Linked DNA regions of Homo sapiens. The protein of the gene in region 5 purifies or fractionates together with the protein of the main gene of each other region. This does not show direct contact. Each region holds a gene or a part of one and is shown on either strand. Other genes may lie near its edges.

The links.
Region 1: the proteins of HOXB1 (region 5) and DDX19B purify together in Homo sapiens (affinity purification with mass spectrometry; one large-scale study listed by BioGRID and IntAct). This does not show direct contact.
Region 2: the proteins of HOXB1 (region 5) and ZNG1A purify together in Homo sapiens (affinity purification with mass spectrometry; one large-scale study listed by BioGRID and IntAct). This does not show direct contact.
Region 3: the proteins of HOXB1 (region 5) and HEATR6 purify together in Homo sapiens (affinity purification with mass spectrometry; one large-scale study listed by BioGRID and IntAct). This does not show direct contact.
Region 4: the proteins of HOXB1 (region 5) and AIFM1 purify together in Homo sapiens (affinity purification with mass spectrometry; one large-scale study listed by BioGRID and IntAct). This does not show direct contact.
Region 6: the proteins of HOXB1 (region 5) and ERGIC1 purify together in Homo sapiens (affinity purification with mass spectrometry; one large-scale study listed by BioGRID and IntAct). This does not show direct contact.
Region 7: the proteins of HOXB1 (region 5) and MNAT1 purify together in Homo sapiens (affinity purification with mass spectrometry; one large-scale study listed by BioGRID and IntAct). This does not show direct contact.

What each region holds. Positions count from the first base shown.
Region 1 is NC_000016.10:70,312,686-70,316,185, forward strand, and holds part of DDX19B (ATP-dependent RNA helicase DDX19B), read left to right. Parts: intron 1-2,216; coding exon 2,217-2,270; intron 2,271-2,954; exon of another isoform or gene 2,955-3,283; coding exon 3,284-3,419; exon of another isoform or gene 3,420-3,457; intron 3,458-3,500. UniProt on the Homo sapiens protein: ATP-dependent RNA helicase involved in mRNA export from the nucleus.
Region 2 is NC_000009.12:120,337-123,696, reverse strand, and holds the end of ZNG1A (zinc-regulated GTPase metalloprotein activator 1A), read left to right. Parts: intron 1-242; coding exon 243-311; intron 312-414; coding exon 415-480; intron 481-1,606; coding exon 1,607-1,736; intron 1,737-2,123; coding exon 2,124-2,230; 3' UTR 2,231-2,860; downstream 2,861-3,360. UniProt on the Homo sapiens protein: Zinc chaperone that directly transfers zinc cofactor to target metalloproteins, thereby activating them.
Region 3 is NC_000017.11:60,068,922-60,072,421, reverse strand, and holds part of HEATR6 (HEAT repeat-containing protein 6), read left to right. Parts: intron 1-92; coding exon 93-207; intron 208-1,614; coding exon 1,615-1,716; intron 1,717-2,573; coding exon 2,574-2,711; intron 2,712-3,500. UniProt on the Homo sapiens protein: Amplification-dependent oncogene.
Region 4 is NC_000023.11:130,155,842-130,159,341, reverse strand, and holds part of AIFM1 (apoptosis-inducing factor 1, mitochondrial isoform AIF precursor), read left to right. Parts: intron 1-2,738; coding exon 2,739-2,881; intron 2,882-3,500. UniProt on the Homo sapiens protein: Functions both as NADH oxidoreductase and as regulator of apoptosis.
Region 5 is NC_000017.11:48,528,212-48,532,220, forward strand, and holds HOXB1 (homeobox protein Hox-B1), read right to left. Parts: upstream 2,801-4,009; 5' UTR 2,694-2,800; coding exon 2,117-2,693; intron 1,665-2,116; coding exon 1,336-1,664; 3' UTR 315-1,335; downstream 1-314. UniProt on the Homo sapiens protein: Sequence-specific transcription factor which is part of a developmental regulatory system that provides cells with specific positional identities on the anterior-posterior axis. Acts on the anterior body structures.
Region 6 is NC_000005.10:172,924,751-172,928,250, forward strand, and holds part of ERGIC1 (endoplasmic reticulum-Golgi intermediate compartment protein 1), read left to right. Parts: intron 1-1,758; coding exon 1,759-1,819; intron 1,820-3,500. UniProt on the Homo sapiens protein: Possible role in transport between endoplasmic reticulum and Golgi.
Region 7 is NC_000014.9:60,741,261-60,744,760, reverse strand, and holds part of MNAT1 (CDK-activating kinase assembly factor MAT1), read right to left. Parts: intron 1-3,500.

The DNA.
Region 1 (3,500 bases), on a different chromosome or scaffold from region 5:
AAATGTGATTTCCTTCAGTATTTTTGTTTTGGCATAACAACTGTCTGGAAAAAAATTTGTATTTGTACCAGGCAGGGCATTGGCAGATACTGGTACCATTTGATTTGTAAATCAACAAACTGGATTGTATGACCAAAGTGTTTTTATTTATTTTTTTGTTTCTGTTTACTTTTTAAGAGACAGGGTCTTGCTCTGTTGCCCAGGCTGGAGTGCAGTGGTTCAATCATGGTTCACTGGAGCCTCAACCTCCCAGACTCAAGTGATCCTCCACCTCAGCCTCCTGAGTAGCTGGGACTACAGGCACAACCCACTACGCCCAACTAATTTTTATTTTTTATTTTTTATTTTTTTGAGACAGAGTCTCGCTCTGTTGCCCAGGCTGGAGTGCAGTGGCTCGATCTCGGCTCACTGTAAGCTCCACCTCCCGGCTTCACACCATTCTCCTGCCTCAGCCTCCCGGGTAGCTGGGACTACAGGCACCTGCCACCACGCCTGGCTAATGTTTTGTATTTTTAGTAGAGATGGGGTTTCACTGTGTTAGCCAGGATGGTCTCAATCTCCTGACCTCATGATCCACCGGCCTTGGCCTCCCAAAGTGCTGGGATTATAGGTGTGAGCCACTGTGCCCAGGTATTTTTGTTTTTTTATAGAGATGAGGACTCCCTGTGTTGCCCAGGTTGGTTTCTAACTCCTAGGCTCAAGCAGTCCTCCCGCCTCAGCCTCCCAAAGTGCTGGGATTACAGGAGTGAGATATTACACCTGGTTTCAAAGTGTTTTTAATACAAGAATGAGGATTGCACACTGATAGCAAGGGTGTGGGGGGAACAAAGAATGAGGCTACTTAAGTGGGACTAATTACTAACCATCGGACTACATTGACAAAGACTAATTTTTTTCTTAATGTTCTCAATTTGGGATGAGATAGACAAAGTATGAGCAATCTGACAGTTTACCTATCCTAATTATTCTGAAATCATATTTATCCAAAGTTAAGATTTCCATTAAATTATTGTTGATGTACTTAATATTACAGGAAGGAAATGTAACATTTGCCTTTCTCAAAATTCACTTAAATCTTTTTTGTATGATTTTATATAACCACAGTATCATTCGACTATAAATTTATATTAATCAATTTATAGGCCGGGTGTGGTGGCTCACACCTGTAATCCCAGCACTTTGGGAAGCCAAGGCTGGCGGATAACCTGAGGTCAGGAGTTTGAAACCAGCCTGACTAACATGGTGAAACCCCATCTCTACTAAAAATACAAACATTTGCCAGGTGTGGTGGTGCACCCCTGTAATCCCAGCTACTCAGGATACTGAAACAGTGGAATCTCTTGAACCTGGGAGGCAGAGGTTGCAGTGAGCTGAGATCGCACCACTGCACTCCAGGCTGGGTAAGAGTGAGACTGCATCTCAAAAAAAGAAAAAAAAAATTTATATGCATGAATTTTTTTTGTTGGTCTTACTGCTCATTTGTTATATACATGAATTTTAATGGCATTATTGTGTTCACCTATTGATAAAATACGATTTGCATAGATATTCCTCTGTTGAGCATCAAGGTGGTTTCTGATCACTAATTGCTCTAATCTTTCTATAATATTTAAGAAGTATTGATTCAATGAGGGAAATAACAGGTTTTGAGGTACGGAGAGGAGACCTAGAATAGGAAAGAATATGAGCAACAGAGGCCGGGCGCGGTAGCTCACGCCTGTAATCCCAGCACTTTGGGAGGCCAAGGCAGGCGGATCACGAGGTCAAGAGATCAAGACCAGCCTGGCTAACATGGTGAAACCCTGTCTCTACTAAAAATACAAAAAAAATTAGCTGGGCGTGGTGGCGGGTGCCTGTAATCCCAGCTACTCGGGAGGCTGAGGCAAGAGAATGGCGTGAACCTGGGAGGCAGAGCTTGTAGTGAGTTGAGATCGCACCACTGCACTCCAGCCTGGGCGACAGAGCGAGACTCCATCTCAAAAATAAATAAATAATAAAATAAATATCTATCTATATATATATATATGTGAGCAACAGTGTTTTACACCTTTGTTTATTTAGGGACAATAAAATGTTTTTATCAGCGGCTCGGTTTCCTCATTTATTTTTTGCTCCCCAGGCCTTTACAAAAACTTCTAGTGTCATAGAATTTGAATTGTCTCAACTGTTGGGTATGGGATGCGATTTTGAATGATGGCCACTTTGTGTCTATAAAGGTGCTGTTGTCAAGACCAATGCCAATGCAGAGAAGACAGATGAAGAAGAGAAAGGTAACACAGCCGTGGAGCTTTATATAATAACAAGCTTCTACATTCTAAGAAAGTGGATTGTTATGAGGCTTCATTTTTATACCCAGTTTGGCTTGACTTTAATAGGCGATACAGTGCTAGCATAAAGGTTCAATATAGGGGCCGGGCACGGTGGCTTACACCTGTAATCCCAGCACTTTGGGAGGCCGAGGTGGGCAGATCACGAGGTCAGGAGATCGAGACCATCCTGGCTAACACGGTGAAAACCCGTCTCCACTAAAAATACAAAAAAAAAAAAAAAAATTAGCCGGGCATGGTGGCAGACGCCTGTAGTCCCAGCTACTTGGGATGCTGAGGCAGAAGAATGGCATGAACCCGGGAAGCAGAGCTTGCCATGAGCCGAGATCGAGCCACTGCACTCTAGCCTGGGCGAAAGAGCGAGACTCTGTCTCAAAAAAAAAAAAAAAAAAAAGTTCAATATAAATAGTCAGTAGGTGAAGGAGTTCTAATGGTTTACGTTTAGAGAAATTTTACATTTAACAACTGAACAGTTGAATAGGGCATTATAAAAAATTTTCAGTTGCATCTCTATTGTCCAGTAAAATTAAGCTTAATGTTATTTTGACACATTTGACATGGATGACGAGACCAACTTGTCCAATATTAAGGTACAGACTTTGTTAATTCCTGTTTTTTTTTTTATTGTTGTGATTGCTACATTAATTACTTTAGGTTTATATATAGTACAAATTGGGGAGTAAATATGTGGGTCTGGATAGGAGGAATAGATAACTGCAGGAAAAGAGGGCTGTTAGAATAGAGTCTGGAAAAGAATATGAGGCCTAAATGGGTGATGTATCATAACTTTTTTCTTTAATAAAACTATTTTAATTTATAAGTCAAAACTATGACGTACCTTGAATTTGAATGTTCAGTACATTATTATTTAAAATACAAATGGCAGTTGAATTAGAGTAAACGCCTGGTAGGTTTCAAGGACTTTTTAAAATTCTTTGCTTTCTTTTTCCTGACAGAGGACAGAGCTGCCCAGTCCTTACTCAACAAGCTGATCAGAAGCAACCTTGTTGATAACACAAACCAAGTGGAAGTCCTGCAGCGGGATCCAAACTCCCCTCTGTACTCGGTGAAGTCTTTTGAAGAGCTTCGGCTGTGAGTATTTATTCACCTTCTGACTCTTCCCCTTTGCACTGAAATAGAGATCCTAGGTCTGTTATAGATATCTTTTGACCA
Region 2 (3,360 bases), on a different chromosome or scaffold from region 5:
TTTAAAATACAAGGTAGTAGTTTGTGTAAATACTAAATCCATTGGTACCTGTGCAGAATGTAGGAAATGGAGTTGCTAATTCCAAAAAAACAGCACATATGCTGAGGAAAGTATAATACCTAATATATATGGTTTAAGCAATGTAAAATTCCATGAATATGTTCCTTTTCATCTTAAAATTTGTGATTTAAAAAACATTGATATTACTATAAAGAATTATTGTTATTTCCCTTGATTTACAGAGTATTGTTACAATCACATTTGAAGTACCAGGAAATGCAAAGGAAGAACATCTTAATATGTTTATTCAGGTGAATGCAATTTTTAACTGATTAATGATTTATCAATGGTTTTGTTACATAGTTGTTGCTATTAGCGATGGTTGGTCTTATTAAAATATGTCACTTGATACAGAATCTCCTGTGGGAAAAGAATGTGAGAAACAAGGACAATCACTGCATGGAGGTCATAAGGCTGAAGGTACAGTTTACTGTTGCAGACTTTCGGACAAAGTCCTTTTCTTGGCTGTTATAAAAACTATATTTGGTTTTAAACAGAAACACTTGTTTTAGTACAAATCATCTTTGTCTACTTTCATTTTTCTTTATTATTTTCGTGACTGAAAAGGAGCTTTGGAAATCACTGCATAAGGCTTGATTTATTTGCACAACTTTCTTTAGGGTTGCAGCTAGAACAAACCTGTGTGCTTTGAAATGTTACCTTCTGCTCTCTGTTCCCAAGTACAGAGAAATAATGTTGCAAATCTCACTTCTGCTGAACATTATGCTTCCTGATGCATTTAGCAGACACTAAACATTTGTCATACTCTAAACAAAGTTACAAAGGACTAGAAGAATTCTTGTTCTGTATTTAGAAACCCACTCACGTTACTTGATATTTGGGTATTTAAGTCATGAAAGGTATTTCTTCTAGGAAGCAGTGATTCTAAAGTGTATGCTTAACCAGTCAGTTGAGTGTCTACTCTTGTGTGTTCACAAGTGTGCACAAAGTTTTTGGTAAATTAAGAATATTATTTCAAATAAATTAATTTCATCCCCATAGGAGCCAGTTTATCAGATAATTCGTTTCTCATTTCTGCAAATCAATACACAATGAGCTCATATTCAGATAAATATAATAGTTTTTCTTTATTTCATCATTGTTCATTGATTGCAACCCATTTCTAAAACAAATTATTTAATATAACCAAACTCCTTTAACTTCTCAACTTTTCCCACGAAAACTGTGAAACATTATATAAAATCTTTAATCAATAGGATATGATACATATTTCATCATTTTGTTTCAGGTTTTGGTTGTGATAAATAACACTGAAAAACCATCCTAATATATGTATTAACTTTATCATTAGAAAAGGGGATTGTTCAAAAAGAAAATCAATACACAGAAACCTTTTTTGAAAATTAAAAACATTAAGAAACTTCTTGTAATTCACAAATAATTGGAATTAAGTAATTTTCTCAGCTTAAGAGTTTGTATTTTTTAAGTGAATATCAGTAATTAATCCATTAACATTGATGCTCTATTTCTGCTTTTAAGTTTGAACTGAGGCTGATTAATGTTCAGTCAATTCTCCTTTGAGCAGGGATTGGTGTCAATCAAAGACAAATCACAACAAGTGATTGTCCAGGGTGTCCATGAGCTCTATGATCTGGAGGAGACTCCAGTGAGCTGGAAGGATGACACTGAGAGAACAAATCGATTGGTCCTCCTTGGTAAGTCTCAAAGGATTCACAGTTTTAAAACAAAGTGAAAAATATATTTGAAAGGGATATCATGTGCCACTTAAACAGATTAACCATTCAGGTCCTCTTTTAAAACTAAATAAGCTTGTGGTCAATGTTTCATCTTTATCACGTTACAACGTTCGTAAAAGCTTGTTAGGACTTTTGTTCTTCTTCAGTTTTAGAAAAGTGGTTAATCCAAGGACCAATGTGACTTTGATGTACTGACCTGGAAAGTTAAAGATGGAATCACTCAATTACTATTCTTTTTGTAAATTTCTAAACACCATAAAGCATTTAATGAACTGGAATTGATAGGTGAACTGTGTCATTTTAATAAGCATAATGTAATCACGTCATATTTTGTTTTGTTTGCAGGCAGAAATTTAGATAAGGATATCCTTAAACAGCTGTTTATAGCTACTGTGACAGAAACAGAAAAGCAGTGGACAACACGTTTCCAAGAAGATCAAGTTTGTACATAACACTAGAGGCATTTCTTATCAAAAGGATTGGATAATAAAAATAAGTTTCTACTGGGTATATTTCAAGCATTTATTTATTACTTTAGTTACGAATTCCAATATACTTTAAAATGGTATTTGTTTTACAGCATACATAAAATGTAGCAAATCAGTACTGTAAAACATTTAACATTCATACAGTTATATATAATATCCTTTTTTTTAAAGAATGGTATTTCACAAAAATATCTTTTGAAATTGGCTTTGGAGTTTACATATACTGAACATGAAAGTTTATAATAATGATGATACAACTTTCAACATTGTCATTTTTTCTTAGAACTTCAGCTGATTGCAGAGATATAATGATTACATTGTTATTAAATTTTTTTAACACAAGTAAGTGTCACCATTTTATGACATGAAATAAAAGGTTATGACTGTTATTGATGTTGATGTTGACGACCTGATCACCTGGCTGAAGGAGTGTTTGTCAGGTTTCTCCATTGTAAAGTTACTCTTTTCCCCCATTTCATACTGTGCTCTTTGGAAGGAAATCACTATGCACAGCCCACACTAAAGGAATGGGGAGTTGTAGTGTACTTTCTTGGGAGTGGTCTACATGATTAATTGAAATTCTTCTGCAAAGGACAGTTGTCCCTTTCGCTTTATTAGTTCGATCATTTATGTTTATCAGTGTGGACACATGAATATTTTATACTTTGGGTTACAATTTAATACTGCTTTATTTTGTTGCTCAAATTATCCCAGCTTTGACCATTGGGAACTCTTTCCGTTATCTCCTGTTCCCACCTTTGACATACCCCCATCAATGTGGGTTTTGTGTTTTGTTTTTGAGTGCCTCCTTACTTTTCTCCTGTATTTTTAAATAACCCCAATCCCTATTGAAGCTGGCGCTAGGAAAACTAACAATACTCCCTTTCCCAGGTCATCCGATTCCTATGCTGATGGAGGAAATTTGCCTCACATGCTGGGGGCGCTGGGATTTTGTGGTTGAATAAGACACCTGGCCTGGCCCTCCTGGAGCTTAGTTTAGTAGGTCACACAAGCAGTCATTGGTAAATTTGGGATTCAAACAAATCTGTTAGGCTCAAACCTGTCTGTTATTTGTCCTCCAAGCTTCATATAAA
Region 3 (3,500 bases), about 12 Mb from region 5:
ATAGTCTATATTACTGCTATTTTTAATTAGTCTTTTGCAAGCCTCATTTTAAAGGAGACTGAGTTTGAGTTGTTTTCTCTGTATGCGTTTAGTGTGCCAGGACAGCCGTATTTGGAGGAGCCCTACCAAAATGTCTGTTTCCAAGCTTTTCTGACTATTTTACAGTCTCCAAAATCATCTGATATGGATGATATCACATTTTGCATGGTAAGTGGACTATCATTGACGTAGTGAATGTTGCGGATGTGTCTAGAAGCAGATTGGAAAAGTGTTACTAACGAGTTTAATTTGCACCATTAGCTTCGTCTAGAGAAATACACATATATGAAATGTTTGTAACCTAAAAAGACTAAAATCATACCATTTCGGTTTAAATTATAAGAAGCTTTTTATTTGTTATATTTTGCAATTCTAGATTTTTAGAGGAAACTATTCTTTTTCCTTCTGAGTATAAAAGCAATAGTTGCAGGCTAGTGACTATCTTTAAGATGAAAGTAAAGAGAGATTTCACCAAATATATCTGCAATATTTTATTTCTTTTTTAAAAATACGATGCAAACGACAGTTTATTAACATCTTTTAAATTTAGAGTAACACATTTCAAATGTTATATAGCTGAGATAAAGTTCCTTCTAGTCTCCTGCTCGGATATAGCCACTGAAGACAATTTGTGCTGTGTGCCCTCAGATTTTTTTTTCTATATGTAAATGAGCATAATTACAGCTTTAAGTGGGATCATATTTAACATGCTGTTTTGTAACTTTCTTGTTTTGTTAAAACTTAATATCTCTGGGACATCTATTCGGTTCCTGTTAATATACCTCATAGTTTCTAACTGCTATGGCTGGAAGACCTTGGACAAGTTAGTTAACTTCTTGGAGCCTCTGTGTTCCTCCCTGAAAAGGGACTGATATAACCACATTGTGGGGTTCTTATGAGAAGTATATGAAATAAAGCATTCAAAGGGCCTACTGTTATTGTTGTTGAGTTTTACATTTAGCAGAGGGTTAGCTTCTTTTATAATCATTATCATAATCATCAAAATTGAAGTTTTTAAAATTTTCCCACTATTTCAAACAAGGCTACAGTTCACATCATCCCAATGTCGGAAGTGTTTCTTAAGGAGAGAGTTCTAGAAATGAGATTACTGAGTCAAGAAATCAATCTTGGTCAGAATTGCCCTCCAGAAACCAAGTTTCTATAATTTATCAGCAGTTCCCACATACATCCCCTTGCTTTTAAGAGGGCTGGGTTTGCCATATTACAGAGCTTTCCCAATTCTGATCTGTGCTATCTTTTTTATCCCTTGTCACATTTTTCTTGCTAAACATCTTCTCTCTTTTTTCTTGCTCACCATTTGTACATAGTGGTTTATAAACATGTACAATAAGACCACTTCATTATTCTTTTCTTCTAGAAAAGAATTCATGGTAGTTTATTAGGTCTCCTTAGATCTTCATTTCTGCTTTGTGTGTGTATATGTGTGTCTATAATAAAGTTTTTTTTCATCATCTAGAGACTGTCTCTCTTCCATCCTAAGTGGTGCTAGTAAGTTGATTCCTGGACAACCAGATTTTATTCTGCCTTCTAACTGGGTCTCCCTTTTCCCCCTAGTTATTGCAAAATGCATTAAAAGGTATACAGTCACTTCTAAATGGTGGGAGAATGAAACTAACACAGACTGATGAACTTGGAGCACTTTTAGCTGTGCTAAAGGTAAGGCAAGTCTTCATATGATCATTGTCTTTCCTGTTTCAACCCATGGTACAAGGACCACTTTACATCCTTATTCTAAGGCTAACTTTGAGGTATTAAAAGTTCTTACATATATTTTGAGAGAGTAGACAAAAATGTTCATATTCAAAGACACTTAATATTAAGAACAGAAAATAAATCTCCATTTAATAAATGCATCAAAATTTTAAAATTATTTATGAATCTTAGGAAGGGAATCGGTAGGGGAGTATGACCTATAGAATATTTAATTATAGACTATGTTGTACTTGTTTGTACAAGAAGAGCCAGTGCTTCTCCTTGGCTTTCTCCTCCAAGTAGTAGACAGGCCAACCAAGACGTGTGTCAATGGGCAGCTTCCGAGCGTGCCAGTCAGTCGGAAAGTCAGGCCAGCATCTCTGGGGACCCAGCTTCTTCAGCCAGCAAAGTAAGAAGTAATTCTTTCCTTGTGGCATTCTCTTGCTCCCACATCAAATAGAGAGATAGCTATAGGTGGAGATAGGTAAATAAAAATGATAAATTTGTTTAAAAAATTATAGACAGATAAAGTAATTGGATAAATTTTATAAATAAATAAGGAAACTAAAACCAGACCTGATTTGATCTGACCAAACCAAATCCAGCTGGAGGCCAGATAAACTTCAGCTCTTCTTTAAGCCCTATGCCTTCAAGGTATCTATTTTCTATCTCATTTATATTTCCTTAGTAGGCTTTTGAACATTATCTATGAGTGTTGTGATCCAGACATGGTAAATAGTTCTATTTTATGATTAATGGTTTATGATTAATGGTTTTTTTGGTTTCGTGTGTGTGTGTGTGTCCTTATTCATCATTATTAGAAATTCATGTTTCACGGACTCCCTGGACTAAACATAGAGATGCCCACGGTGTTATACCCAACTCCGCTTCCTCAGTATGATGGGCGAACACCTATCAAACCACAGCAATCAGAATCCAGTGCTTCTCGACCAACTTTGGTACATTTATGTTTATTTAGATTTAAGTTGTGGCTTATTTTTAATAGATTGTTGTGTGTGTTTTCTATGATTTGCATCACTACTACCCTAAAAGCCTACCTTGAATTTTATTTCAGTTTAGGGTTGTTAGCATAGTAAATTTAAACTCATCTGATGCTCAAAATACCAATTAAAGCATCTTATACTTCTTAGAGGTGTAGTCAGTATAACAGCTATAAAAATGAGCATTCACTTTATACCCCAAACCAAGCATTCTCATCCCCATGATGCTCAAGACCAGGAGTCAACAAACGTTCTCTAAACTTTCTCTACTAGGCTAGTAAATACTTCAGGTCTCTGTCATAACTACCAACTCTATTGTAACAGTGCAAAAGCAGCCATAGACACTATGTAAATGAATGGGCATGACTGTGTTTCACTAAAATTTTATTTACAGAAGCAGGCTGTGTGCTGGGCTGGATTTGGCTTTTGGGCCATAATTTGCCAACCCCACTCTAGACTGTTAGAAGCCCACCTACCAGTCAGCGCACCATCTCCACACCTTACATTCACCTGATTTCCCAGCCTTTCCAGAAGCTGCCATCTCCCTCGTGCTTTGGTTGGAGAACCTGGAGCATACAGATGTATGGCCAAGGATTCACTTCCAGAAATGTCATACCTGATCAAAGTGCTTCTTATTAGAAATTATTTCACTCATTCACTCACTCAGCATTTACCCAACATCTGCTGTGTTCCAGACGCTGTGCTAAGCACTAAGTATATAGACTCTGGCTGCTTTTAGGAGTTTGA
Region 4 (3,500 bases), on a different chromosome or scaffold from region 5:
GATGAAGAGTTCTAAAAGCAGGTAAGAAGAACAGTAAAGAAAAATACATTTCCTTTTCTAAGAGTGTAGATCTAAAGTCTCTTATCTGTAATTCAGAAATTGAAATTGTAGAATGACCAAAATTTAAGACTATCAAGTTTTCATAACTCATTTGCCAGTAAAACCTGACCTGAACTGGAGAGAGGCTACTTTATAATCTTTTTAAAATATCACTTAGCGTGATTGGTCATATTAATATGTTTAACTATGAATTGCTGCCCTTTACCTTGCTAGGTGTCACTATGTGGTATATGCCCCATATACTTAAGACCAGATAATTCAAAGTTCCAAATTATACATGGTCCCCAGGATTTCAGATGAGAGACCACAGATCCACATTGGGCTTGTTTTTACCCGTCTGTGGCCTAACGTTATGAAAGCAAGGGGGAAATTCCTTCTCTAATCTCTGCAAGTATACATGGGATGCTACTACCAGTGTCCATTCTGTTTGTCTTTTAAAGCCTAGACAGGACAGGGACATAAGTATCAGCCTCTAGACTAAGCTTGTCCAACCTGCAGCCCAACACAAATTTGTAAACTTTCTTAAAACATTATGAGATTTTTTTGCGATTTTTTTTTTTTTTTTTTTTTTTTTTTTAGCTCATCAGCTATGGTTAGTGTTAGTGTATTTTATATGTGGCCCAGGACAATTCTTCTTCTTCCCATGTGGCTCGGGGAAGCCAAAAGATAGGATATACCTGCTCTAGACAGATGGTTCTCAATGTGTGGTCCCCACCCTAACAGCAGCAGCAGCAACAGCAGCATCCCCTGGGAACTTGTTAGAAATGCACATTCTTGAGCCCCATCCCAGATCTATTGAATCAGAACCTCTGGGCCTGGGGCCTGGCCAGCTTTGTTTTATAAAACCTTCAGGGCATTGGGATACACTCTCAAGTTTGAAAACCACTGCTCTAGATCGGGGTCTGCCAACTACAGCCACAGGCCAAAGCCAGTCAGTCACCTGCTTTTGTATGCCCCAGGAGCCATGAGTGGGTTTTGCATTTTTTTTCTTTTTTCTTTTTCTCTTTTTTTTTCTTTGAAATGGAGTTTCGCTCTCGTTGCCCAGTCTGGAGTGCGATGGCACAATCTCGGCTCACTGCAACCTCCGCCTCCTGGGTTCAAGCTATTCTCCTGCCTCAGCCTCCCGAGTAGCTGGGATTATAGGCATAAGCCACCACGCCCGGCTAATTTTTTGTATTTTTAGTAGAAACAGGGTTTCTCCATGTTGGTCAGGCTGGTCTCTAACTCCCAACCTCAGGTGATTCACCCTCCTCGGCCTTCCAAAGTGCTGGGATTACAGGCGTGAGCCACTGCACCTGGTCTTTTTTCTTTTCTTTTTTTTTTTTTTTGAGACGGAGTCTCACTCTGTTGCCAGGCTGGAGTGCAGTGGTGCGATCTCGGCTCACTGCAACCTCCGCCTCCCGGGTTCAAGCGATTCTCCTGCCTCAGCCTCCCGAGTAGCTGGGACTACAAGCATGCCCCACCACACCTGCCCAGCTAATTTTTAACGGGGTTTCACCATGTTGGCCAGGATGGTCTCGATCTCTTGACCTCGTGATCTGCCCACCTAGGCCTCCCAAAGTGCTGGGATTACAGGCGTGAGCCACCACGCCTGACCTACATTTTTTAAACGGCTGAAAAAAAAAAGAATTTCGTGACACATGAAAATTATATAAAATTTAAACTTCAGTGTCCATAAAGTTTTATTGGAACATGGCCACATCCATTCATTTATGTATTGTCTTTGGCTGCTTTTATGCAGCATCAGTGGAATTGAGTAGTTGCAGCAGACACCAAATGGCCCAGAAAGCTGAAAATATTTACCATCTGGTTCTTTGCAGAAAAAATTTGCTGCTCTAGGTTGATAGTCAACAAACACGAGGAGTAATCACAGAATAATCAGAGACTGAGACCTTCCTTTATCTGAAAATGTCAGCGTCTCCCTAGAAAAAGAAATCTACAGAACTCTTATATTTCTATGTACAGGTGCTGTTATGATCATCACATCATTACATAGCTCTGCATAGTTTTACGTCAAAATAACCTTTGTATTATTTTGGAGGAGTAAGAGTCAAGGAGTTGCTGGACACTTCACATTTTGTCATTATAAAAAATATTTCATAGTCCAAAATTTTTTAGTTCTTTGGGGGAGAGAAACTCATTAAAATTTTTTTTTCTGATTTTCTTCTGAGCTTTAACATTTCTGTATTCCAGGACACATTACCTTTCATGCAAGATTGAACTGTGTCCTGGTTAGAGTGTTGCGTTTTATTTTGTGCAAGATTGGAACCATCTAGATTACTCCTTAAATGGTTGTTATAATGTCCCAGGTAGCCCATGGTTAACTTTGTATATCTACCTATTCAGTCATCTCTCTGTGTTTACTTAATTTATGGGAAAGACATGAAGGAAGAGGTATTTGATGAACTGTTCGTGTTTTTCATGATCTTTTCTGGAAGCTGAAAATTTTCTCACTGGACAGCATTAAATTTTACTCTTAAAAACTTCAGCAACTTAAGAGCGTTCATTCAGCTGTCTGTAGTATTTATATATGCAGTTTTGATGATATTTTTCTTGATCATTTAACGGTGAATATCTGTGGGCAATAAGTCTTGTACAGTGCATTGACATTTAATCATAAATATGTATTAACTATTTTATTTTTGTATGTGTGTGTCTTAATAAATTATGTTTCTTAGGCAACTTGTTCCAGCGATGGCATGTTCCTCTAGAACTCCAGATGACAAGACAAATGGCTAGCTCTGGTGCATCAGGGGGCAAAATCGATAATTCTGTGTTAGTCCTTATTGTGGGCTTATCAACAGTAGGAGCTGGTGCCTATGTAAGTAGAAAAGCAGCGTGTATAAAGAAGCTGCCAAACAGCTCCCATTAATAGACTCGATAGTATTCTGCTTTAAAACTTTTGCAACTAATTCCCCTTTCTCCTTTTGGAAAAATTTTCAAAAAGCCTTCTCTTAAGTGCCTGCTGCCTAATATCTTATGGGAGCCAATTCTGGAATGACTGAAATTTAATCTCATGTTGATTGATTTCTGCTCTTTTCACTTGTCTTTTTCTTCTTTACTTGAAAGCCACTATGTTTTCCTAGATTCGAGTAACCCACAAAATTGTACCTGTTTTCTTGGATGTCACACACTAACCTGTGAATAAAGTCAAAATCCATTGCAGCTCCTTAGCACAATATTTGATTTTGACCTATTTGTCAGACATTTTATTTCCTCAGCTTGAGGTTCACATTAAAAAAACAACAGCCTTCAATCAAAAATATTAAGTGTTCCTAAAAGGAAAGCTATCCCTGAATCTTACCCAAAGACTAAATTACAGAAACAGGGCTAGTATCACTGATTTTAGAATGGAGTTTGTTTGAGGTGAGAAATATGGTGTTTAATTGCTATGTAGTATTAGCACCATTATATCTCCTTAAATGAACTCCGATCAGCTT
Region 5 (4,009 bases):
AGCAAGAAAGAAAGAAAAAAAGAAAAGAAAAAGAAAAATCTCTGGGAATTGCATTCATTCCACAGACTTCTTCCATGCTTTTCTGGATTCTCCCAATAACCAAGGGACTGACAACTGTCAAGCCTGAATGCCTGGGACCCAATCCTGCTTAGGCCACACCCAGTAAGTCCTTCTCTTTATCCAGCTGAGATCTTAAAGCTCAGTTCATTCCAGCCCAACCAGCCAATGGCCACTCTTTCTTCACCTCTTCTCCACGGTGCACGGAGTATGAGGCCTCTTCTACCCCTGAATGGAGAAACAGAAGCAGGCAGGAAGAAGGGAAAACACAGACTTTATTGAAATGAGGTAGTTGCAGGTACAGAGAGAACCCGGGCTCACTTGGGGCTCAGGTTTCCAGAAACTTAGATGGCTCCTCCTCTTTCTCAAAGGTTCAGATAAATCCTTGCAGCTGTTGGGAGCCCTCATTGTGCCTGGCTCTCCCTGGGCTGCCCCCAGGGGTAGGGGTGGAGATGGGGAAGAGGGTCCTGGGTTTTCCAGGAGGCAATAAATAGGGGAGGAGCTAGTGGGGGCGTGCCTGCACCTTCCTGGTTGTGGCTTGCTGGGGGCAGGCCTTGCACGGCGTTCCAGAAGTCTCTGGAATACCAAGTTCCAAAACACTTTGGTGACATAGTGATGAGGTCGCTGGTGTGAGGAGGCAGGTCTCAGAAAACAACCTCTGAAGGCTGCATTAGTGCAATATAAATATGCCAGGAGAGGGCTAATGGGGTTAGATGGGGGCGGGGGGCTTTTTGGTCTGTCACAAGGCAGCTGGTGCTATTGTAAGGTCTGTGGTGACTGGATTAAGCATTGATAATAATATGGCTGCACCCAAACACCTCCCACACAAGAAAATTTAAGGTTCTGTGTCAGGCCTAGAAGGGGGAGTTAGGATAAGAGTGCGTGAGGAGACTCCTCAAAGCTCGAAGGCACTGAACCGAATAAACCCAAGTTGGAAGGGAAAGGAGGATGAATCCAGGAGGATGAGGCTGGCCCCCACCCCCACCACATGTTGACACTGAGCTGATCCCCAGATCAAAGGCAGAAGCCCTTCCCTCTACATTTGACAGGTTCCATGCCTCCCAGGCCTCTGGTCCTGTAGGGCCCCCAGCCACCCAGGTCTGAGAAAAATGTTTCCCCATCCCCCCTCCCACCCCCAGGCAGCTCTAAACTGGCATTTCAGCCCTAGAGAGGATCCCCAGGCCAGTGAAGCCCAGGCCTGGGGTTGGGGAGAGCCTGGGATAGGGCTGGACTGGGGCGCTCCAGTGCCTGGAAGCCCCATTGGTGGCTAGGTTCAGTTCAGGAGGTGACAGAGCTGGGTGAGGCTTCCGGGGAGGTGCATGTCGACTGGTCTGAGGCATCTCCAGCTGCCTCCTTGGGGCAGCCTGGTGGGGCTGGGGGGACCCGACCTTCCTCTCGCTCGCGCTTCTTCTGCTTCATTCGTCGGTTCTGGAACCAAATCTTGACCTGTGTTTCATTGAGCTCCAGGGTGGCGGCAATCTCCACCCTCCGGGCCCGGCTCAGGTACTTGTTGAAATGGAACTCCTTTTCCAGTTCTGTCAGCTGCCTTGTGGTGAAGTTGGTGCGGAGGCCACTGGGCGAGCCCAGGCCTGGCTCTGACACCTTCGCTAGGGGCGGGGCAGGGAGAAAGGCCAGGTCAATTCTCTCACCTCTTTCTCCTTCCGCTTCCCTCCTCCCGGGGCTGGCTCTGGACCTCCATTTGCCATTCTGCCCAAGTACAGTTGTCAAAGTTCCCAGGGACCACCAGGTACCCCCATGGTGATCACCAAGTCTGGAGCAGCCTTCCCCATACTTCCATCCCCCATGCACACCAGGTCCTGGGTCTGTGCTGGGTGCACAGATCAGGAAGTGGGGTGTGTATGGAAACTTACTCCTGGGGTGACCGGTTACATACTGGGTGGGGAGACCTCACCTGACCTGAGACGTAGGTTGTGCTCTTACCTGTGTCTACCAGAGCCGCTGAAAGAGAAGAACCCAGCCCAGACCCAGGACATGTCACTGCAGGGGAAGCAGAGATGCTTTGGGCCCCGGAGAAGGGGTGGCCACATCTGAGCCCTACCTGTCTTGGGTGGGTTTCTCTTAACCTTCATCCAGTCGAAGGTCCGGGCCGTGGGGGTGTTAGGTTCTGAAGGGCAGGGTGTTTCCTTGTCCTCGGAGAGGAGATCAGCATAGGCCGGTGCAAAGCTCGCGGTCTGCTCGTTCCCATAAGGGGGATGCTGCGGAGGATATGGCCCCGGACCGGCTCCACCTGCTCCGTAGCCATCGGACAAGCCCCCTAGCTGGGCCCCGTAGCTCGAGGGATGAAAATAGCCTCCGTCTCCTTCTGATTGACCCAGAGGGTAGTACTGAGAAGGCCCGTAGCTGGGGCTGCAGGCGGCAGGAGCATACCCCGAGGGCGCGGAGCTGGGGAAGGGCACCCCCAGGGTCGAAGGCGGCTGCTGGGCGGGATAGCCGGAGTTCTGCTGAAACGCAGGGCTGGACAGCCCCCCACCGTAGCGGCCCTCGCTTGCATAGCTGTCAACCGCCTGAGCCGAGCTTGGGGGAAAGGAGGTTGGGGCGCTGTGGGCGCTGTAGGCGCTGGGTCCCCGGTTACAGAGTGGGTACTCTAAGAAGGAGTTCATCCTATTATAGTCCATGCGTCAAGGCCGCAGGAGGGTCGGCCCGTTTGGGGGAGACACCCTCTTGCCCTACAACCTTTCGGCAGTATGTCACAGCGCTGGGGCTCGAATCCATGGCCTGACCCGCTCGCCTGGGCAAGCGCTTCCCTAGGAAGGGGGTAGGGAGTGGGGGTGAGGGGGCACATGTGATCTCTCCCAGGCCAATGGGCTAAGCGGGCCAGAGTTTGGCAGCCCCAGCGCCCATCCATCACCCCCCAAGCATTAGCATGACAAAGACACTTCAATCACCCGCAGCCCATCCATCTGAGAGCGACATGGAAGCGTCAAAAACATCTTTCTTCAAAGACTTTTGGAAAGAAGGGACCAGAGGGAGAGGGGGAAAAAGTTAGGAGAATATTCAAGACTTTCCTTCCCTCCCAACCCCCAAGGCCTTCAATAGGCTCCTGGGTTATTAGATTTGGACAAATTCAAGCCAGCTGCCCCTCACTCTTCCCACCCCTCAGAGAAACCTTCCCCCTAAGTCTGTGGACCTGGAGGTGGGGAATCCAGCTTCCATACTTTGCCCAGAACTCCCAAACCATGTTCCTTTCTTCCAATTTGTCTTAGGGTGGTGGGCTAGGACAGCCGGGTGAGGTATGTTATCTTGGGCCAAATGGATGACTGTGTGGTGGGGAGGTGGGGGAAGGTGGTGCAAAAACACCTAAGGGTGTGGGGCAGGATCTAGAATCTAGAGGAAGAATTCATGAAGCCAGGGGTGGGAAATTGGCATTTCAGGGAGCAAGGCAGGACTACAGAAATGTGGAGAAAAGGATGAGAAATGCCCCATCTTCCCTCTCTCTCTCTTTGCATAAATGTTCTCTCCTCATTCACACATCCATTTCTCTCCCTCAGCCTCTCTTTATATTCTCTCTGTCTCAATCCATCTCTCTGTTCGTCCATCTTTCTCCATATTTATATTCGTTCCCTACCTCTCATCTCTCTAGATGTATTTATCCTCTCTCTAGCCATCCATAGCTGTAGCTGGCTCACTCACTCAGACTTAAATAACTCCCTATATCTCTCTAGAGAGCCACAATGAGCACAGCCAGGTGATGTTTACAGCGGGGTGAAGAGGAGGGGAATTTTTTATTCTCTTCTTGAAGTGTTTAAAACTAGTGGAGACCTGCATTCTCCTGGTTCCCTCCTACCTGTCTCTCCTTCACCACCCTCCATCTCCTTCCAAAAAAAAAAAATTTCCAAACCTCAAATGCATAAATTTAATACCAGTTAAATCTTAAAGATTCCTCCAGATTTCAGTAATTTTTCTAGGATTGATAAAGGGAGTTTGGTCAGAG
Region 6 (3,500 bases), on a different chromosome or scaffold from region 5:
TCTGATTTTTTTAAAAAAATGTACAGAACTTAGCTTAGGGCCCATCCATCCATTCATTTTCTGTCCATCCATCTAGTCAACAAATATTTACAAAGTACCTACCGTGTCCAGGCCTTGCATACCTTGGTGAGGACAAACATGGTCCCTGCCCACCTGGAGCTTCCAGTCTAGGGGGGAAGACAGATGTTGATCAAATAATGGTACAGGCCAGGTGCGGTGGCTCACTCCTGTAATCCCAGCACTTTGGGAGGCTGAAGCGGGCGAACTGCTTGAGGTCAGAAGTTTGAGACCAGCCTTGCCAACATGGTGAAACTCTGTCTCTACTAAAAATACAAAAATTAGCCGGGCGTGGTGGCAGGCACCTGTGATCCCAGCTACTCAGGAGGCTGAGGCAGGAGAATCACTTGAACCTGGGAGGTGGAGATTGCAGTGAGCTGGTATCATGCCACTGCACTCCAGCCTGGGAGAAAGAGTAAGACTCCTCCCAAAAAAAGAAAAAATAAAAATAAAAATAAATGGTACAAATAAATGTGAGATAAAGCCATGTCACATGACAATGGAAGAGAACATTCTAGCCTTCTTGTCTCTGTAACCACCGTTCTCATGGGTTAGAAATGAAGCCTTCACACGGTCAGTCTCAAGACAGCAAATAGACAAACTTCCTTTTCCTTGTTGAGAAATTGCAGTTCCTTCCAGTTGTTGAGGAATTGCTTGTTGAGAACATGCAGGTGTGTTAAGTGCTCAGTAAACATCAGCCGCCTGAGACCAGGATCAGGGATTATGCCACCCCGCTGCTGCCCACTGCTCCTGGAGTGGCCACAGAATCATGTCCCCACGTACCTCTCCGATGTCTCCTCCTTCCTTCTATTCAAACACCTCACTCTCCTTCCTCCTGGGGGCCACGTGGGCCTGTCTCCATACTTAAGCCTTTGTACATGCTGCTTGCCAGTTTAACTTCCCACTTTCCTCCAGATCTTGGTGTCAATGTCATTTCCTCCAGGAAGGCCTCCAGGGTGTCTAGCTCGATAACCCCTGTTAACCATGCCCATGGTAGCATGCTCCATTTACCAGGTATGCCTTGTCCTTCTTTAGATGTTCCTTGAGGCCAACCTGGTTTCCCATTGTCCTCAGAGAAAAGGTGAGATGTGGTTTTCAGCCCTACTCTACAGCAGCCCACCCCACTGCCCGGAGGAGGGTTTTCTTCACATCTGCTATACGTTCTCTGCAGCAGACATGATGGGGGGCCCACAGCTCTGGGGCATCCCTGCCTGGACTCCTCTATGGGCCTTTCAGAGGACCCTGGGATCTCAGGAGAAACTTTCTGGGACCCAGAATCCATGTTCACTTGAATTTTCTGTGTGACTTCATGGAAAGAGTCCAGCTTAGTGTCAGACAGACCTGATTTCAGAGTTTAGCTTAGCCACTTACCAGCCGGGCAAGTTTTGGTGTCTTTCCAAGCCTTGATTTGCTCTTCTGTAAAATGGGCCCAATAATACATCATTAGGGGCATGAAATGAAATTATATGAAGGGGCCAGGATGGAGCAGCACATAGTAGGGGCTAGAGATGGGAAACAAGCTTGTGCCTACTATGTGCCAGGCCCCTGCTGCCTCTTGCTCCCCACAAATCCGCTGGAGCCCCCTTTTACACATTGGTAGGGTTCCTAGACCAGGTGGTACCTGGCCATCCCCCACAACCAGGGCCAGGCCTGGAGGTGGAGGTGTCCTGGGGACCATCCCCTCACTGCATTTTTCCACAGGTCCAGAACATCCACGGAGCTTTCAATGCTCTCGGGGGAGCAGACAGACTCACCTCCAACCGTATGTATCCCTGCTGGGAACAGCCTTCTGCTCCAAGATGCCCAGTACAGCAGGCAGGGAGGGGGAGGGCAGAGAGGTGGGGGTGCCTGTCCAGCACCCACTCCAAGGCAGGGAGGCTGCTGCTCACACTCCATTCCCACAGCTAACCAGTGGGAAGGTGGACCCAGCCCCGTCCAGACCCAGACCCTGATGGAGAAGGAAGAAGGCTTGTCCCGGGGCACAGCAGACGCACGCACGCAGTGGATACCAGCTATTACCATTATTGTTGCTCTCATCACAGCCACATCATCATCCTTAGTTGAACTAATTACCTAAGATCCCACAGGGAGCTATGGCAGAACCAGGATCTGTTCTGCCTCCAGGTCGCACCGTGAGAACAGGTCTGTGGGTGGCCCAGTCAGCTGTGACCACATGGCTGCCTCCCCCACACCTCACTCTCCTCCTGCTCAGACTCCTCCCATCGATAGTGGCTCCTCCTAGAGTCCTCGCCCTCCTTAGCTCCCTGGCACCTTGGCCCAGATCAAAGAGAACCGCACATCTCCACACGCAGACAGGAGAGCACGCATACCTTTCGTGCACACCAACACACATGAGCTCACATGGCCCCAGACACGTGCACAGAATGGGCCCGGGAGGCCTGTGTGCTCAAGCAGACCTGCAGACCCACTGCTGCACAGGGTACCTGGATTTTTCTTATTTCCTCACCTGAGCTCACCTTTTAACCCACATCTTTTCTTATTATTTCCTGAAATGCGTTTGCTCTCCCATTGTCAGGGATCCAAGGCAAAGAAAACATCCCTCTGTGACCTGCCCCCCCGACAAATCGAACCTCATTTTTCTGTGTCCCTGTGAGTCCTTGTCCATAAGCAGAACTCACTTTTCTTTTTTTCCAAGGCATGGATTGCAGTTTACCGTCTGCTTTTTGTACTTGACCTTATTACATAGCCACGATTTTCTTACTTTCCAGTTGTAATGGGAGCACAGTTGTCCATCTTGCAGCTCTGCTGTGCTTTTTTTTTTTTTTTTTTGAGACGGAGTCTTACTGTGTCACCCAGGCTGGAGTGCAGTGGCACAGTCTCGGCTCACTGCAACCTCAGCCTCCCGGGTTCAAGCAATTCTCCTGTCTCAGTCTCCCGAGCAGCTGGGATTACAGGTGCCTGCCACAATGCCCAGCTAATTTTCTGTATTTTTAGTTGAGACAGGGTTTCACCACGTTGGCCAGGCTGGTCTTGAACTCCTGACCTCAGGTGATCTGTCCCCACTCTGCTCTGCTTTTCTAAGTCATTGTCTTCTCACCGAAAGTGTCTGTCGTTTCCTGTGTTTCACTGTGGCAATAATGCCTCTGATATGTACAGGGTTGGCGCTCTGTTACCCGATTGCTTTCCAGCTGTGTCTGGTTCCCATTCATGCTGCCTCCAGCAACGGATAAGTATACGGCAGCACCTCCTTATTTGAGTGCAAATGTCTGGTTGTAATAGAGGTAGATGATTCTTGGTGTGGTGCCGTGGTCATTGTCGTTTTGTGTCATGGTAACATGTCATCCGACGTCGGCCGTCCACAAATGTCTGCAGCTACGATGGACCCTCAGCTGCTGGACAGGAAAGAGGATCAAGCTAAGAAGGCCCAGAGTGTGCAAGCAGAGAGAGGGTGTGGACAGAAAACCTTGCCTTCTCCAGGGCTA
Region 7 (3,500 bases), on a different chromosome or scaffold from region 5:
CTAACAAAGACTAAAATCAAGCCCCAACAAGTTTTTGAAGGGATTAAAAATGTGAGGTTGAGTTACACTAAAGTAAGGAAACAATGGGTTCTCCACATATCATTCTAGCAAAGAGTAAAACCAAGCCTACACAAGTTCAAAGTTATCTGCCAGTAACTGAACTACCTGCAAGAATTTTTAAAATCAACACTTTTCACAAAAATACAAAATCCAGAATCTCTATAATATACCACCTACAATTAAAAAGTAGTAAACATGCAAAAATAAATAAGCAGAAAACTGTAACCTACAGTCAAATAAAAGCAGTCAATAGAAACCAACCCTGAGATGGCTGGGCGTGATGGCTCACACCTGTAATCCCCGCACTTTGGGAGGCCGAGGCACGCAGATCACTTGAGGTCAAGAGCTTGGGACCAGCCTGGCCAACAGGGCAAAACCCCATCTCTACTAAAAATACAAAAATTAGCCAGGCATGGTAGCAGGCACCTGTAATCCCAGCTACTTGGGAGGCTGATGCAGGAGAATCACTTGAACCTAAGAGGTGGAGGTTGCAGTGAGCCAAGATCATGCCACTGCACTCCAGCATGGGCAACAGAGTGAGGCTCTCTCAAAAACACAAACAAAAAAGAAACCAACCCTGAGATAGCCAAGGAGTTAACTCTTACAGACAGAAACCTTAAGATTGACTATCATAAATATTTTAAAGGAATTAATGGAAAATATGTTCAAAAAATTAAAGGAAAATGCATTCAAAGAACTAAAGAAAAATATATTCTTGATGAGTATATAGATGGGAAATATCAGAGAAATGAAAACTATAAAAAAGATAAAAATGAAAACTCTACGACCAAAACAATACAATAAGAAATGAAAAATCTATTGGATGAGATTAGAAATGGCAGACAGGCAACAGTGAACCTGAAGATAGATCAATAGAAAATATATAATCTAAAGAACAGGGAGAAAGAGATATGAGTAAAATTAACTTCTCAACAGAAACACTAGAGAACAATGAAATGATATCTTTTGTATGGTCAAAGAAATGCCAACCCATAATTCTATATTCAGCAAAAATATCCTTCAAACACTAGGGTGAAATAAAAACACTTTCTTATAAACAAAATCAGAGTATATTCTTCACCAACACACCTACACTATAAGAAATGCTAAGGAGCTGGGCGCAGTGGCTCACGCCTGTAATCTCAGCACTTTGAGAGGCTGAGGCAGGCGAATCACCTGAGGTCAGGAGTTCAAGGCCAGCCTGGCCAACATGGTGAAACTCCATCTCTACTGAAAATACAAAAATTAGCCGGGCATGGTGGCACACACCTGTAATCCCAGTTACTCAAGAGGCTGAGGCAGGAGAATCGCTTGAACCTGGGAGGCGGAGGCTGCAGTGAGCCGAGATTGTGCCATTGTACTCCAGCCTGGGCGACAGAGCAAGACTCCGTCTCAAAAAAAAAAAGAAATGCTAAAGAATGTTCTTTAGGCAGATGGAAATCAATATGACTATAAAATCAGATCCAAAGGAAGAAGGGCAATATCAAAGATAGTAAATAGGTGAAAATAAGAGACTATATTTCACCACTTCATACCCACTAGAATGGCTATAATCAAAAGACAACTATAACAAGCATTGGCAACTACATAGAGAGACTAGAGCCCTCATTCACTGCTATAAGATGGTACAGCCACATTGGAAAACAAACTAAACAAAGAGTTACCATATGATCCAATAATTCTACTCCTAAATATATACATGAGAGAAACAAAAACATTTGTCCATACGAAAACTTGTACATGAATGTTCACAGCAGCATTATTCATAACAGCCAAAAAGTAGAAATGACTCAAATGTTCTTCAACTGATGAATGGATAAAATGTAGTATAGCCATACAATGGAATAATATTCAGCAATAAAAAGAAATGTTGTACTCATACATGCTACAACATGGATGAACCTAGAAAATATTACACTATGTAAAAGAAGCCAGTCCAGAGAACCACATACTGTATGATTCCATTTATATGAAAGGTCCAGAATAGGAAAATCTACATAGTCAGAAAGTAGATAACTGGTTGCCTAGTGCTATGGGAGGGGGGAGTTGAGGAGTGTGACGGCTAAGTGGTGAGAGGTATCTTTGTGGGGTAATATGTACATCTCTGAGAATATACTAAAAGCCATTGAAACGTACACTTTAAATGTGTGAATTTTATGGTACGTGAATTATATTCAGTGAAGTAGTTTTTTAAAAACATACCTTTCCTTAAAGACAACTGACTGTTTAAAGCAAAAATAACAACAAATCACAAATACAAATAAAAGATATGCTGAAAGAAACCACTAATAATAATAATAACAATGAGGAGTTAATTGTTGGCCATAAAAGGTGACTGTAATCCCAGAACTTTGGGAGGCTGAGGTGGGTAGATCACTTGAGGCCAGGAGTTTGAGACCAGCCTGGGCAACACAGTCAGAGACTAGCTCTACAAAAAAAAATTAAAAATTAGCTGGCTGTGGCAGTGCACACCTGTAGTCCCAAATTCTGGGGTGGCTGAAGTGGAAGGATCCCTTGAACCCCTGAGTTCAAGGTTGCAGTGACCTGTGATAAAGCCACCACACTCCAGCCTGGGTGATAGAGTGAGATCCTGTCTCTTATTTAAAAAAAAATAAAAATAAATAAAAAATAAAAAGCTACCGGCTAATAGGCCAATACTTTAAAAAATCCAATTATTTCAAAATAAGGCAGGAAAGGAGCAAAAGAACAACAAAAAAACCAAAGGAATACAAGGAAACATGTAGACTTAAACCCAATGATATCAATAATTAGATATAATGGACTAGTACACCAATTAAAAGGCAGAGATTGTCAATCCAGATAAAATGGCAAGACCCAGTGAAGTAGAGTCTCCCAGAGACAGACACAAATTGGTTGAAAGTAAATGGATGGGGGCCAGGTACAGCAGCTCACTCTTGTAATACCTACATTTTGGGAGGCCCAGGCAGGAGGATCACTTGCGCTCAGGCGTTTGAGACCAGCTTGGGAAACATAGCAAGACCCCATCTCTACTAAAAATTAAAAAAAAAAAAAAAAAAAAAACCCCAGGCGCAGTGGCTCACGCCTGTAATCCCAGCACTTTGGGAGGCCGAGGCAGGAGGATCACGAGGTCAGGAGATCGAGACCATCCTGGCTAACACAGTGAAACCCTGTCTCTATTAAAAATACAAAAAATTAGCCAGACGTGGTGGCCCGTGCCTGTAATCCCAGCTACTCGGAAGGCTGAGGCAGGAGAATGGTGTGAACCTGGGAGGCGGAGCTTGCCGTGAGCTGAGATCGCGCCACTGCACTCCAGCCTGGGCAACAGAGCGAGATTCCATCTCAAAAAATAAAAATAATAAATACATAAATAAATAAATAAGCCAGGTGTGGTGCCATGCACCTGTAGTCCTAGCTACTCAAGAGGATGAGGCAGGAGGATCATTTGAGCCCAGGAGTTT